2 linked regions of the Homo sapiens genome follow. The protein of the gene in region 1 interacts with the protein of each later gene in a pairwise test. Each region holds a gene or a part of one and is shown on either strand. Other genes may lie near its edges.

The links. Proteins that work in one complex are often made in the same cells at the same time.
Region 2: the proteins of NR5A2 (region 1) and PNRC1 interact in a two-hybrid assay, tested with the Homo sapiens proteins (one study listed by BioGRID).

What each region holds. Positions count from the first base shown.
Region 1 is NC_000001.11:200,170,641-200,177,718, forward strand, and holds the end of NR5A2 (nuclear receptor subfamily 5 group A member 2), read left to right. Parts: intron 1-3,322; coding exon 3,323-3,570; 3' UTR 3,571-6,775; downstream 6,776-7,078. UniProt on the Homo sapiens protein: Orphan nuclear receptor that binds DNA as a monomer to the 5'-TCAAGGCCA-3' sequence and controls expression of target genes: regulates key biological processes, such as early embryonic development, cholesterol and bile acid synthesis pathways, as well as liver and pancreas morphogenesis.
Region 2 is NC_000006.12:89,076,159-89,083,750, reverse strand, and holds the start of PNRC1 (proline-rich nuclear receptor coactivator 1), read right to left. Parts: upstream 3,001-7,592; 5' UTR 2,857-3,000; coding exon 2,317-2,856; intron 1,201-2,316; coding exon of another isoform or gene 1,174-1,200; exon of another isoform or gene 1,016-1,173; intron 1-1,015. UniProt on the Homo sapiens protein: Nuclear receptor coactivator. May play a role in signal transduction.

The DNA of each region.
Region 1 (7,078 bases):
CAGCATCCCAGGGACTGATTCCAGTCCAAATGAGAACATAAGCACGTTTCCCTTAACACAAAACTGACCAGTGAAAATCCTCATTTGCAAAACATGTAAATTAGAACTTGATTATTCAGATCACAAAAGGATTCATCACAGGACTTTTTGAATAGAAAAGACTATTACATGTAAAGTACAGTATTTTATTTCAGGGAGAGATCCATTACATATATGCCAAATTTTTGAAAATCAGTTTCTAGTTAGAAAAAGGAAGGAAATTGGCTTGTGAAATAATTTAACAGGTCAAATTCACAATTGTATCAATCTTGGACAAATGCACCAATAATGTGAAGCAAGGAGTTACCGGTGTATTCCCTGGGGATGGCTGAACTAAAGCATATCCCTTATCCCCAGGAGCTTACGGTCTGCATAGGGAAACAGACAGTTAAATAGACAGAAGCCAGCATCAAGGCAGGCAGCAGAGCAATGATCCTGGAATGGCATGGTCAGTAAATGAGAGGAATTCACTCAGAACTTCTTCAGGATCATTGCCATGTGTATAGATGTAGAAACAAAATAGACATTCGGCAAGTAAGAATCTTTGGGACAATTAGCAGCATATGTTTTATTATTTCATGATAACATTCATCAAAATAGCTTAATGGGATAATTAACTCAGGCATGTGGATTCAATTCTGATCAGCTTTAGCAAAAAATAGTATATTTAGCCAAAATATGAGACACCTATATATTTTCCTGCCAGAAGGAAAATTGCACATATTTCCCAAGTTTTGGGGGAAAAGGGTGTCAGTTTGGACCAGTATTCATAGAAATTAACCATCGAGGCTGGACGCAGTAGCTCACGCCTGTAATCCCAGCACTTTGGGAGGCCAAGGTGGGTGGATCACTGGAAGTCAGGAATTTGAGACCACCCTAGTCAACATGGTGAAACCCCATCTCTACTAAAAATATAAAAATTAGCTGGGTGTGGTGACACAAGTCTGTAACCCCAGCTACTCAGGTGGCTGAGGCAGGAGGATTGCTTGAACTCAGGAGGTGGAGGTTGCAGTGAGCCGAGATCGCACCACTGCACTACAGCCTGGCAACAGAGCAAGACTCTGTCTCAAAATAAAAAAAAGAAAGAAGTTAACCATTGAATGCTGAGCTGAAGACTCTAAATTATCATTCTATAATAGTAAGTGGATAAACCAAAACTTATGATCTAGCCTTTGTTTTATGTTTGTTGGTAGTTTTCTTTCTTTTTGTTTTTCCTTAACAGAGCAGCATAGTTTATCACAGAATGTTAAAACTGGTTCTCAAAAAAATACAATTATCAAAAAAGGAAAGTTTCAAACAACTTTCTAAAAAGGGTATTCTTCATTTTTCTTACATTTTACATTCATTCTATGCAAATTTCTACATCCTCTCTATTAATCTCTGACTGTTACTAGCTTTGCTTGCTGGTGAGAGTATTTTTCACTGTAGCGTAAAATAATACTGCATTTCAAATTTTTAATAGTCATGTTTTAATCACTATAATGCAAAACAAATGTAGATTTTTCTATCATGTACCAAGGTAGGACATATTGAAGGTATTTCTGATTGTTTATATTTTGCAATTTTGAACCAAGTATGACTCTGGATACATAGCCATACTTATAAATATTTTTAAGTAACTTAAAATCATTTTTAAAATATATTAAATAAGACAGGTGGAATATGCTTTACTAACTGTAAAGTGCCGCATGGGTAAAATGTCCAGAGCACACCAATGTGGTTGCCAATTTAAATGCCACCGGAAGACTCAGAGCTCCTTATTGTGTAGTATTTATGTTTGTACAACTCATCAATGAATAATCAACTATGTTTGAGTCTGCCATCTCACTTTGAAAGAGATATGGTACCAACTCACTACATAACTATTTCAGTACTAATTCCTCACTGTTTTTAATTTGGGTCAGAGACTTGGGGATGGAAAGGGGAAGCATGTTTAATGCAAAGCTATGGCCCAAATGTAAACACTGAAATCGTCCTGAACACACTTCAACAGCGAATGTATGACAGCCCAGTGTAAAGCCATTTAGAAATAACAAGATGGACATGTACACATATGTAGGTTAAGTTCAACAGTATATAATGCCCAAAACAGTATATAGTGGGTATGAATTACTTGAACCGAGTTTAGTATCTTTATCCTTTTAGTCATAGTACTGTGTGGTTTTCTCCATATTCTCTTTCTTATTTATTTTTGTCCAATTAGAAAATAAAGCAGGGCAGGGTGGCTGCATCTGTTTACTTTCTGAGCATGGGTGTATGTAAACACACACACGTATCTGTCTATTTTTTCCAGAGGCTTCTATGTACACATCATATAAAAGTCATACTGTTAACATAAATCAACCCCAGAAGAGAAATTCCAGCATACCGTTTTCCCTTGCCTATTGTCTGTGTGTGTGTTTGTATGTCAGTCTGTCTTTTTTTATTCTGGCTTTCTCTCTTATTCAGTATTTATAAGGACCTTTAGGGCAGATGTCTAAAAACAACTGCATAGTCATCAGGAGTTAGGCGGAATGAAATGCCTTTGCTCATCTTCTCTACATGAGTGACCAGAAGAAAAAAAAGAAACACAGAGTATCAGACTTTAGAAACTACATGCAGGTTAAAGGGCACTGACCATCCTGGCTTGTGTTCTGCCTAAAGGACAAGGCTCTCATTTGATAAAGATCATTAGTCACCAAGATATATATTTTAGAGAGTTCCCAGTAGCGAATATTCTGTTGGCAGTCACTGGAGTGTACCAGATGGTTCATTAGCATAGGCTAGACAAGTCAAAGACTTTCAGAATCATTTAGAAAATGTCAAACAGAAACAAGAATCCTGTCACTTTTTATTAGAATTAACTACATCATACCCTGGACACAGATTTCACCTTGGGTCAGAAAAATTAATACAGAATTATATGAATTGTGTAATATACTGGGTTAAGATAGGTCTTTCTCCAGGGACTCATTTGCTGGCAATATATTAAGATCCCTCTACTTTAGGAATCCTCAATCCTTTCCTTTTGTAAGATATGAAAAGAGTTGACCTTGCTCAAAATCCACTGGTGTCTAATTGATTTGAGGTATATGCAGAATTTCAACAAGACATTCTTCTAAAGCTCTTTTGTGATCCTTTTCCCAGGAAGTTTGGTGAGTGGGGTTTACTGAATATTCAGCAGCATGTAAAGTATGTTTATGTCAAAAGGAAAATACATCCATTAATTGAACACATTGCTTTAGTAAACAGGAATTGAAATGCTATTGAAATGTTGCTTTTTTTTTTTTTTTTTTTAATGCAGATGTCAAAAACCTTGAAAACTTCCAGCTGGTAGAAGGTGTCCAGGAACAAGTCAATGCCGCCCTGCTGGACTACACAATGTGTAACTACCCGCAGCAGACAGAGAAATTTGGACAGCTACTTCTTCGACTACCCGAAATCCGGGCCATCAGTATGCAGGCTGAAGAATACCTCTACTACAAGCACCTGAACGGGGATGTGCCCTATAATAACCTTCTCATTGAAATGTTGCATGCCAAAAGAGCATAAGTTACAACCCCTAGGAGCTCTGCTTTCAAAACAAAAAGAGATTGGGGGAGTGGGGAGGGGGAAGAAGAACAGGAAGAAAAAAAGTACTCTGAACTGCTCCAAGTAACGCTAATTAAAAACTTGCTTTAAAGATATTGAATTTAAAAAGGCATAATAATCAAATACTTAATAGCAAATAAATGATGTATCAGGGTATTTGTATTGCAAACTGTGAATCAAAGGCTTCACAGCCCCAGAGGATTCCATATAAAAGACATTGTAATGGAGTGGATTGAACTCACAGATGGATACCAACACGGTCAGAAGAAAAACGGACAGAACGGTTCTTGTATATTTAAACTGATCTCCACTATGAAGAAATTTAGGAACTAATCTTATTAATTAGGCTTATACAGCGGGGGATTTGAGCTTACAGGATTCCTCCATGGTAAAGCTGAACTGAAACAATTCTCAAGAATGCATCAGCTGTACCTACAATAGCCCCTCCCTCTTCCTTTGAAGGCCCCAGCACCTCTGCCCTGTGGTCACCGAATCTGTACTAAGGACCTGTGTTCAGCCACACCCAGTGGTAGCTCCACCAAATCATGAACAGCCTAATTTTGAGTGTCTGTGTCTTAGACCTGCAAACAGCTAATAGGAAATTCTATTAATATGTTAGCTTGCCATTTTAAATATGTTCTGAGGGTTGTTTTGTCTCGTGTTCATGATGTTAAGAAAATGCAGGCAGTATCCCTCATCTTATGTAAGTGTTAATTAATATTAAGGGAAATGACTACAAACTTTCAAAGCAAATGCTCCATAGCTAAAGCAACTTAGACCTTATTTCTGCTACTGTTGCTGAAATGTGGCTTTGGCATTGTTGGATTTCATAAAAAATTTCTGGCAGGAAGTCTTGTTAGTATACATCAGTCTTTTTCATCATCCAAGTTTGTAGTTCATTTAAAAATACAACATTAAACACATTTTGCTAGGATGTCAAATAGTCACAGTTCTAAGTAGTTGGAAACAAAATTGACGCATGTTAATCTATGCAAAGAGAAAGGAAAGGATGAGGTGATGTATTGACTCAAGGTTCATTCTTGCTGCAATTGAACATCCTCAAGAGTTGGGATGGAAATGGTGATTTTTACATGTGTCCTGGAAAGATATTAAAGTAATTCAAATCTTCCCCAAAGGGGAAAGGAAGAGAGTGATACTGACCTTTTTAAGTCATAGACCAAAGTCTGCTGTAGAACAAATATGGGAGGACAAAGAATCGCAAATTCTTCAAATGACTATTATCAGTATTATTAACATGCGATGCCACAGGTATGAAAGTCTTGCCTTATTTCACAATTTTAAAAGGTAGCTGTGCAGATGTGGATCAACATTTGTTTAAAATAAAGTATTAATACTTTAAAGTCAAATAAGATATAGTGTTTACATTCTTTAGGTCCTGAGGGGCAGGGGGATCTGTGATATAACAAAATAGCAAAAGCGGTAATTTCCTTAATGTTATTTTTCTGATTGGTAATTATTTTTAACAGTACTTAATTATTCTATGTCGTGAGACACTAAAATCAAAAACGGGAATCTCATTTAGACTTTAATTTTTTTGAGATTATCGGCGGCACAATCACTTTGTAGAAACTGTAAAAAATAAAAGTATCTCCTAGTCCCTTAATTTTTTCATAAATATTTCTGGCTTTTGAGTAGTGTATTTATATTGTATATCATACTTTCAACTGTAGACAATTATGATGCTAATTTATTGTTTCTTGGTTTCACCTTTGTATAAGATATAGCCAAGACTGAAGAAACCAAATATATGTGTTTACTGTAGCATGTCTTCAAATTAGTGGAACTTAGTTCAGGGACATAGAAGAGTCTTAATGAATTAAAATCATTCACTTGATTAAATGTCTGTAAATCTTCATCATTCCTACTGTAGTTTATTTAATATCTATTGTAAATTATGTGACTTGTAGCTTCCTCTGGTTTTCAAGTAAACTCAACAAGGTGGAGTCTTACCTGGTTTTCCTTTCCAAGCATTGTAAATTGTATACCAAAGATATTAGTTATTACTTCTGTGTGTACAAAGAGGATTATTTTATTATGTTTATTAATCACCTCTAATACTCATCCACATGAAGGGTACACATTAGGTAAGCTGGGCGTTGACTCATGCGCAGTCTCAGTCACCCGTGTTATCTTCGTGGCTCAAAGGACAATGCAAAATCGCCGATCAGAGCTCATACCCAAAGCATTACAGAGAACAGCAGCATCATTGCCCTCCCCAGCTGAAAAACAAGTTGGCTAGAAGATACATGGAGAGGAATGGTGTGGTCAACAGTTAATGAAACGGTTCTATCATGCATGTGTAATGTGGATGGAGACAATTATAAGATTTGACTATAACTATTTGGAGGGTCTTTAACATTGCCAAAAAAACAAATATGTTGATTTTTATTTTATTTTATTTTTTATTTTAAGAGGCGGGATCTTGATCTCACATGTTGCCCAGGCTGGCCTTGAACTCCTGGGCTCAAGCATTCCTCCTGCCTCAGCCTCCCCCATAGCTGGGACTAGGGGTGCATGCCAGCATACCTGGCTACGTTGACTCTTAAAATCTATGTTCTCTTATTTTAAAGATACAGTGCTCCCCACTGAAAATTAAACCTAAAAAATGTCACATATTGGTATGTTGTTAACCTGGTAGATTAAATCATGAGAATGATTAGAAAGACGGGCAACACAGCGGGTTACATCCACACTGCTGATCACACCAACGACAGGAGCTGATAAGCAAGAAAGCGTCACAGCCAGCGTCTGTTCACCCAAGGTTGACAAGTGAAGTTTCTCTAATGTTGATTGTTAGCCGATTTGTAACCTGGCATTTACTTAGCAACTGCCTTATCAATTACAGGATTTGCCGGTAAAAGCAGACTCAAATATAAAGGTTTTTGGCTTAACTTGGTTTATTATAGTTGCTCTATGTTTGTAAACAGACAATCTCTAATGTCTGATTATTTGTATCACAGATCTGCAGCTGCCTTGGACTTGAATCCATGCAATGTTTAGAGTGTGAAGTCAGTTACTTGTTGATGTTTTCTTACTGTATCAATGAAATACATATTGTCATGTCAGTTCTTGCCAGGAACTTCTCAACAAAATGGAATTTTTTTTTTCAGTATTTCAATAAATATTGATATGCCCAGCCTGATAATTTTTAAAAGTTTTTATGTTGTCCTCATTCTATCGGATACTAAAGCTTCTAAATAAGAGACTTGACTAGGAGTGAAATCAAAAGAATCCCACAGGAATAGATACTTTTCCCTTTAGATAACTTCTAGAGTGGTTGGCTGTCCTTCCATGGATACCTGAAGCATTAAATTCAATCTGAGCATCATCTCTACATGTGAAACAAAGTATTTTATATCATTTACTGTTATAATCAATAAGCAGAAAAATCTTAATAGCATCTCACTTTTTTGTAGAGCTTATGTTGTCCTGATAACTTTCCCAAGTG
Region 2 (7,592 bases), on another chromosome or scaffold:
ACAAAGACAAGAACACAAAAGTAAATATAGTTTCTAGATAAAAATCAGTTATGAACCTCATATCACATATCTAGTTTTGTTGTGTTTAAGTTTGCCCACAGCCATAGAAAAGAACAAAATTATGTTCTTTGTGACAACACGTATGTAGCTGGGGGCCATTACCCTAGACGAATTAATGCAGAAACAGAAAACCAAATATCGCAAGTTCTCACTTACAAGTGAATTTGGGAGCTAAACACTGGGTACAACATGGATATAGTGGGGAACAACAACAGACACTAGGCACTACTAGAAGGGGGGTTGAGAGAGAGATGGGGACCTACTGGGTACTATGCTCACTACCTGGAATGGGATCATTCATACTCCAAACCTCAGCATCACGAAATATACCCATGTAGCAAACCTGCACAAGTACCTCCTTGATCTAAAATAAAAGCTGAAAATTACAAAAACTTTAATTGGGCATGGTGGCTCACGCCTGTAATCCCAGCACTTTGGGAGGTCAAGGCAAGCAGATCGCTCAAGCTCAAGGAGTTCGAGACCAGCCTGGGCAACATAGCGAAACCCCATGTCTACTACAAATATAAAAATCAGCCCGGCGTGGTAACACGCGCCTCGGGAGGCTGGCTGAGGCGGGATCCCTTCAGCCTGGGAAGGGGAGGATGCAGTGAGCAGAGATCGATCGTGCCACTGCATTCCAGCCTGGAGTGCGATAGAGGCAGACTCTGTCTCAAGAAAAAAAAAACAACAAAAAACTTAAATTTCCCTTGACTTTTAAGTTCACTCTTGTTCGCCACTAAAAATGCAGTTAATCACCACTGCTAGTTACCAGTATGCAACGTGAACCAGTTCTAAAATGTCAAACTAAAAAAAGTCTGAAATAACCCAAGTCCACCTTTCTACAACTGTAAGGAAGACTAATGAGCTCTCTTCCAAATACGAGTGCCAGAAACAATCTTTGCTGTGTACCTCCTTTCTGGTTTAGTAACTGCTTCAAGAACGCTGCTTCACTCACCTTAATCTTTCCCAACTTAAGTGGGCCTTATAGGAAGTCTTGAAAGGATGGAAAAGCGTAAGGTAATCCACTAGATCACTGCACTACCAACACTTGTAACGCGGTAGTAAGCAAGACACGACACGAAAGAGGACCACAACTTTCCACGTCAATAAGGTTCACTGCCAGAGCTCCCTAGTTAGTACCTGTTCTAGAAAACAGGCCAGGAAACAAGCACAAAAGCTTTTAGGTAATCACGGATATTTCAAAAGTCGTGGAATTTTAAAAGGGAGACATTGAGACGATAATTTAAAGAAACAAGGTGGGCAAATTTTTTCCCAAGGGCACAGATAAACCGCAAATCTCTAATTCAATGCAACATTCTTCACTAAATAACGGGAACTTTTTCATTTCATTATTACGAAGATTAAGTCATTGAACTTAAGTCCATAAAACGTTATTCTGACAAGACTTTGAAATCATTTCGTAGACTTAATCCTATTTAAACTTCTATCCATTTTATCCTAATGCAATAGCACTGCAATCAGACGGGCTAAGTCAATTCAATTGCTAACTCTTCTGAAAACTTACTCTGGACACACTAACACGAAGTACCACAGTGGCAAAAGTAATAAAATCAGTTTTGTGCGGCTCCTGCCAACTCTTAACTTGGAACCACTAAGTAGGTCAGGCCCGAGGCGGGCAGAGCCCCAACTGGACTGCGCGTCCCACACCGGGCACCTCACATTTTGGCACAACTCCAACCAAACGAAACCCAGCCGCTCGGAGCCCACTCCACCCCCTACGGCGGGACGTTAGAGGCCGTCTCCGCGTTTCACCGACTAGGACTGGGGCTCCCGATAGCCGGGAGGCCGAAAGCCGGGCCCAGTCCTTCCCCAGCTGCCCCCACCCGGCCTCGCCTCCTTCATGGGCGCCGGAGCGCCGGGCACGTAGCGCGCGCTGACGTCAGCCCTCCCGCGGGCCCTGTCCCTGCCCCCACCCCGCCGCGCGCCCGGAACGCCGAAACCCCCTGGAACGCCGCCAGCCTTCTAAATCGGGGCTGTTGCTGGGGCGCAGCGGCGCTTCTCATTGGCCGACTCCTGGGAGCCAATCAGAAGCGCCAGCGCATGCCTCCCCTTCCCCCTTCTTCCCCCAAAGCAAGAATGGAGCGGGCGTCACGGAAACTTCCCTCCCGAGTAAACAGCCGCCCCCCCCACCCCGCCCCCACCCGCCCGACCCCCCGGGTGCAGGGTCTGCAGCCCCAGAGCTCGGCCGCGACCGTCTAAGGGCCCGACTCCCCAACGGCCCCCTGGCGGCCTCACCTCTTTCCTGAGGGGGGTTTGGCCGGGAGCCGCGGGCCGCAGCGGGGCAAGGTCGGGGCTGGCTCCCTCCGTGCCGGCTGCGGCTGCAGGACTCGGGGCCAAGGCGGCGGCCGGGCCCGGGACCTCCTGCGCTCCGCTCGGGCCGGTCGCGGGGCTCCGGCCGCCCTCCAGACTCGGCCGGTGCTGCTGGTACTGGTGGAAGCGGCTGGGCAGCTGCCCTGCGGGGCTGGCCCGCACCTTCTTCTTTCGCCGCTTCTTCGGCGCTGCCCGAGGAGTGCCTCCCGCCACGGCGAGGCTGCGGTTGGGCAGAGCTGCTGGAGCGCGAGGCTGGGGGGTCAGACACGGGCCATCTCCCCCTAGGAAATGAGGGAGGAAGAGGGTCGGGGGCAGTGCCCGGGGGTCCGGGATCCGGGGTAAAGGAGGCGGAGCCGTGGTCACCATCGGGAGGGCCCCAAAGTAACCTCGGGAGGAAAAGCCAAGCGGCGCAAGGCGGCCACCCAGGACGAGCGGCTCCCGCTGCGGGACGGAGACGACAGTCATAGCGCTAGGAAGCTTGTCGCTCAGCAACGAAGAGAGAAGGAGAAGGTGAATGAAGCCAGTGAAGATAGGGTGGCGGCGATGGATGCTGCTAGGAGAGCCTGAGAAGATCGCGGAACATGACTCGGGCGGTGGCGGCGCAGCAACAAATAGCCACAGCCCCAGCTCCGAGTGTTGTTATCGGAAGCTCCGCCCCGCGCCCGCCCACTTTCCTGCGAAAGCCCAATTAGAGTGCGACAAGGCAGGCCACGCCCCCTCGCTCCGCCTCCGCAGCTTCGGGTAGACACACACAAACAACCAGCTTGCTGCAGCCTGGCACAAAGAGGGCGCACTGCGCAGGCGCTGCCAGCGAGCTCTTTTGGGAAGAATCGGTCCCGCGAACAATGAAATTGGGTTTCCGCCCCACCCTCTTTACTCCTCCCCAGCACGCCCCTGCGCTTCGCCGGGCTAGGGAGTGGTGGTACTGAAATGTCCCGGCGGAGTTTGTTGATGGGGGTGGGGAAGGGAGGGGGCAGGGGGAGGGCGGCAGGAAGAACGGGGGCTGGGAAGAGGGGATGACTTTGGCAAGGCCACGGTTGCCTCCTCCGCTGCTGACCTTGGGGAAGTATCCGTTTTATTTTCAGCCCAACATAACAGCGTTATCATTTTAAAACAAAGATTTCTAAGTACGCTGTAAGGATTTCTTCCCTAGCAATCGTGAAGAAAATCAGTCTACATTTAAATTTTATCTACTGAAGTATGGCTCACGATTCTTTCATTTACTTGGTTCGGCATCGCTGCTTATTAGTCTCGGTGATCAGAGTAAAAATCAAAGTGACTTACTGATTGAATTAGCCCCTCGATGTATAAAAAGTTCTCCGTAAATCCATAAATGGAAGTTGGAGTTTTTACTGATTTCATACTTGAAGGATTGTGAGACTTTGGGATCAGAACATTGTGCCTGGTTACTTGAGGAGGCGGCAAGCCGGCTTGCGTCTCAAAGGGAGAAAGTGAAACAGCTCTGCAACATAGAGTATTTTGTTAGCTGCGCGTAAATAGAAATTTTTCGCGATCTCCCCGCACTGCTCAACCACAAAAAAGAATTGTGGCCATAATTTATCAAGCATTTATGTTCCAGGAACTGTTCTTTACATAGATTGTCTCACTTTAACCTCACAACAACCCTTACGAATAGGTACTAAGAAAAATAGATCAGACCTCAGCTCTGCGAAGTAGGCAGGCTGTCATTCTCTTCCTTTCACTACTAATGCCTGGGGCAATTGTTTAAAGGCATTTTGTTCCTGATTAGCTGCCTACGCATTATCTTTAAGTTTCTGAAATTTAAGATACAAAGAACAATGTATAGCTAGTCAAGAGCCCACGATATTTTAATGTAAATTGGTAAACAATTTAGGAGCTGCCTCTTTTCCTTTAAAAACCTACTTGTAACTTGCTAATCCGAGTGTATATTCAGGGCAGCTTGAATCTATGGTCCTGGGTTGCAGTCCTCAAGCTTGGCCTGATTTTGCCTCAGCTTCTTTTTGGAGGGACAGTACTGTATTTTATTCCCATTTTACAGCTGGGGAAACAGGCTTAGAAAGGCTAAAGGACTTGTCAAAGATCAAACGGTAAGTTAACATCAGAATTTGATCTCCAGTCCAGGTACTGCAAGACAAAAGTTTTAATTTTTTTTTTTTTTTTTTTGAGACGGCGTGTCACTCTGTGGCCAGGCTGCAGTGCAGTGGCGCCATCTCGGCTTACTGCAACCTCCGTCTCCCTGGTTCAAGAGATTCTCCTGCCTCAGCCTCCCTAGTAGCTGGGATTACAGGCACCCGCCACGCCCAGCTAATTTCTGTATTTTTTAGTAGAGACGGGGTTTCACCTTGTTGGCCAGGATGGTCTTGATCTCCTGACCTCGTGATCCGCCTGCCTCGGCCTTCCAAAGTGCTGGGATTACAGGCGTGAGCCACCGCGTCCAGCCCTGCCACACTAGATTCTACATTATTAGAAGACCACAGTAATCTTACACTTCTGTATCCTCACCGCCTCTACAATAGTTTTCAGCTTTGGAGTAGTAAGCAATTAGTAAGCAATGAAACGTTTTATGATTGATGGCAAAGTTGGACAGATTGCATATCCAGAAAAATGCTTCCCAATCACTTTATAAACTTTTTTTTTTTTTTAGACGGGGTTTCTTTCTGACACTCAGATTGGAGTGCAATGGCATGATCTCGGATTACAGCAACAGCCGCCTCCCAGGCTCAAGAGATCCTCCAACCCCAGCCCCCCACGCCCCTGAGTAGCTGGGACCACAGGCACACACCACCACTCCTGGCTAATTTTTTGTGTTTTTAGTGGAGACAGGGTTTCACCATGTTGCCCAGGCCGGTCTCAAACTCCTGAGCTCAAGCCATCTGCCTGTCTCAGCCTCCCAAAGTGATGGGATTACAGGAGTGAGCCACCAAACCCAGTCAACCTTATAAGCTTTTAAAACTACATTTCAGGCCAGGCGTGGTGGCTCACACCTGTAATCCTAGCACTTTGGGAGGCCGAGGCGGCTGGATTACCTAAGGTCAGGAGTTTGAGACCAGCCTGGCCAACATGGCGAAACCCTGTCTCTACTAAAAATATAAAAATTAGCTGGGCATACAGGCTAATGTGCCTGTAATCCCAGCTACTAGGGGGGCTGAGGCAGGAGGATCGTTTAAACCTGGGAGGTAGAGGTTGCAGTGAGCCGAGATCATGCCACTGCACTCCAGCCTGGGCAACAGAGCAATACTCCATCTCAAAAAACAAAAAAGAAACCAAAAAAACTCCATTTCATTCCAATTGCTGAATTTTACTCATTTTTGTTTCTGCAACATGTAATGCATAGTAAGTGCTCATGTTCATTGGATGGATGGGAATCATGGACATCCAGAGCTGTAAAAGAATCTACTTTTTCAAAGCACTTTCCATCTGTCATCTCATTTTATTCTTACTCTAGCACTTTAAGGTTGATATAGAGAGGTCCTATTTAACGTATGGTGTAAATAAATTTAAATATATAGTAACTTGCTTGGGGGGGGGGGTTCACAAAATGAGGTAGGAATAACTCGAACTCCTGATGCCTAGTCCAGTGTTCTTTTCACTATATCCCATGATTTTAGGCTTGACTTTATCTGGGGATAATATCATACTGTCCTAGAGAATAATTTACCCTTCAGGGAGCTGGTCATTGGTAGCCAGCTCTGTGGGGCCCTTGGTCAAAGATACCTATTATTGTCTATGTGTATTTCTTGGGTGATTGTTGGAGTAATTATGTGTATAACTTATCATTTTGAGGCCTTAAGTGTAGGCTTCATGTTTGCCCTGGGTTCTGTACTGTAAGAAAAGTAACCTTGCAGCTGTGACCACCTGGGTGATGGGTGCTGAGATTGCTAAAATGGTGCCCACCACTAAGAAACAGAATGGGAGCTGAAATGGGGCACTTAGAAGAGAGAGGTCGAGGTTTTATAAGCCAGATGATTGGATTTAATGTTACTCTGTGTGGGTAGTCTTTGTAAACCCTTAGTCTTTAGTAAAGTCTAATTTTAATGTTTAAACCTAAGCGTTACAGGTTTAAACATATAGTGTTAGCTGTGCTATATGATATAAAGGAAAAAGATCAGGCTGGGTGCAGTGGCTCACGGATGGCAAGGTGGATGGATCACTTGAGGTCAGGAGTTGGAGACCAGCCTGGCCAACATGATGAAACCCTGTCTCTACTAAAAATACAAAAATTAGCCAGTTGTGGTGGTGCATGCCTGTAGTCCCAGCTACTTGGGAGGCTGAGGCAGAAGAATCACTTGAACCTGGGAGGTAGAGGTTGCAGTGAGCCGAGATCACGCCACTGCACTCTAGCCTGGGCGACAGAGCAAGACTTCATCTCAGGGAAAAAAAAAAAAAAAAAAAAAATCAGATCCTTTTGCTTGGGCCCAAAAGGCCAAACTTGGAGGTAACAAGATATTCCAAGGGTAAAGGAAATTTTAGGAGAATTCTCAGAGTTCTTGAAGCTTTTTGCTCCAGTGTACATCTTGATTTTATTTTTGTTAAGCTAATCTTTAGAGGAGGTTAGAAGAAAAATAAAAGATTGGAAAGTAAACTAGGTATTAAATAGCAGAAAAAAGAGGTAATGCCCATTTATGAAATAAGCAGCTTACCCGCATTGACACTAAGCAGAACTCCAAATTCCACTTCTCTCTCTTCTATCTACCTTTGTCTCTCGTGTATTTTACCTCTGTCCTCTTTCTCTCCCTCTCTCTGTATGAAATGTCATTTTCTTTCCTCCTACCCTGAATGTCTTTTTTCCTCTTTATATAGACTTTATTACCATTTTTTCTACCTATTATTACTTAGATTTTTTTTTCTTTTTCTTTTTTGAGACAGGGCTTCACTCTGTCACCCAGGCTGGAGTGCAGTGGTGCGATAACAACTCACTGCAGCCTCCACCTCTGGCGTTCAGGAGATTCTCACACCTCATCCTCCCTAGCTGGCGCATGCCACCATGTCTGCTAATTTGTGTGTGTGCGTGTTTGATAGAGACAGGGTTTTGCCATGTTGCCCAAGCTGGTCTCGAACTCCTGAGTTCAAGTGATCCAACCACTTTGGCCTCCCAAAGTGCTGGGATTACAGGCATGAGCCACCTCACCCAGCCTATTGCTTAGATCTGTAATGTCTAAGGTGTGAGGGACACCTGTGTGAAAAGAGGAACACTTAATCAAACTTCTATTTTGCTTTTT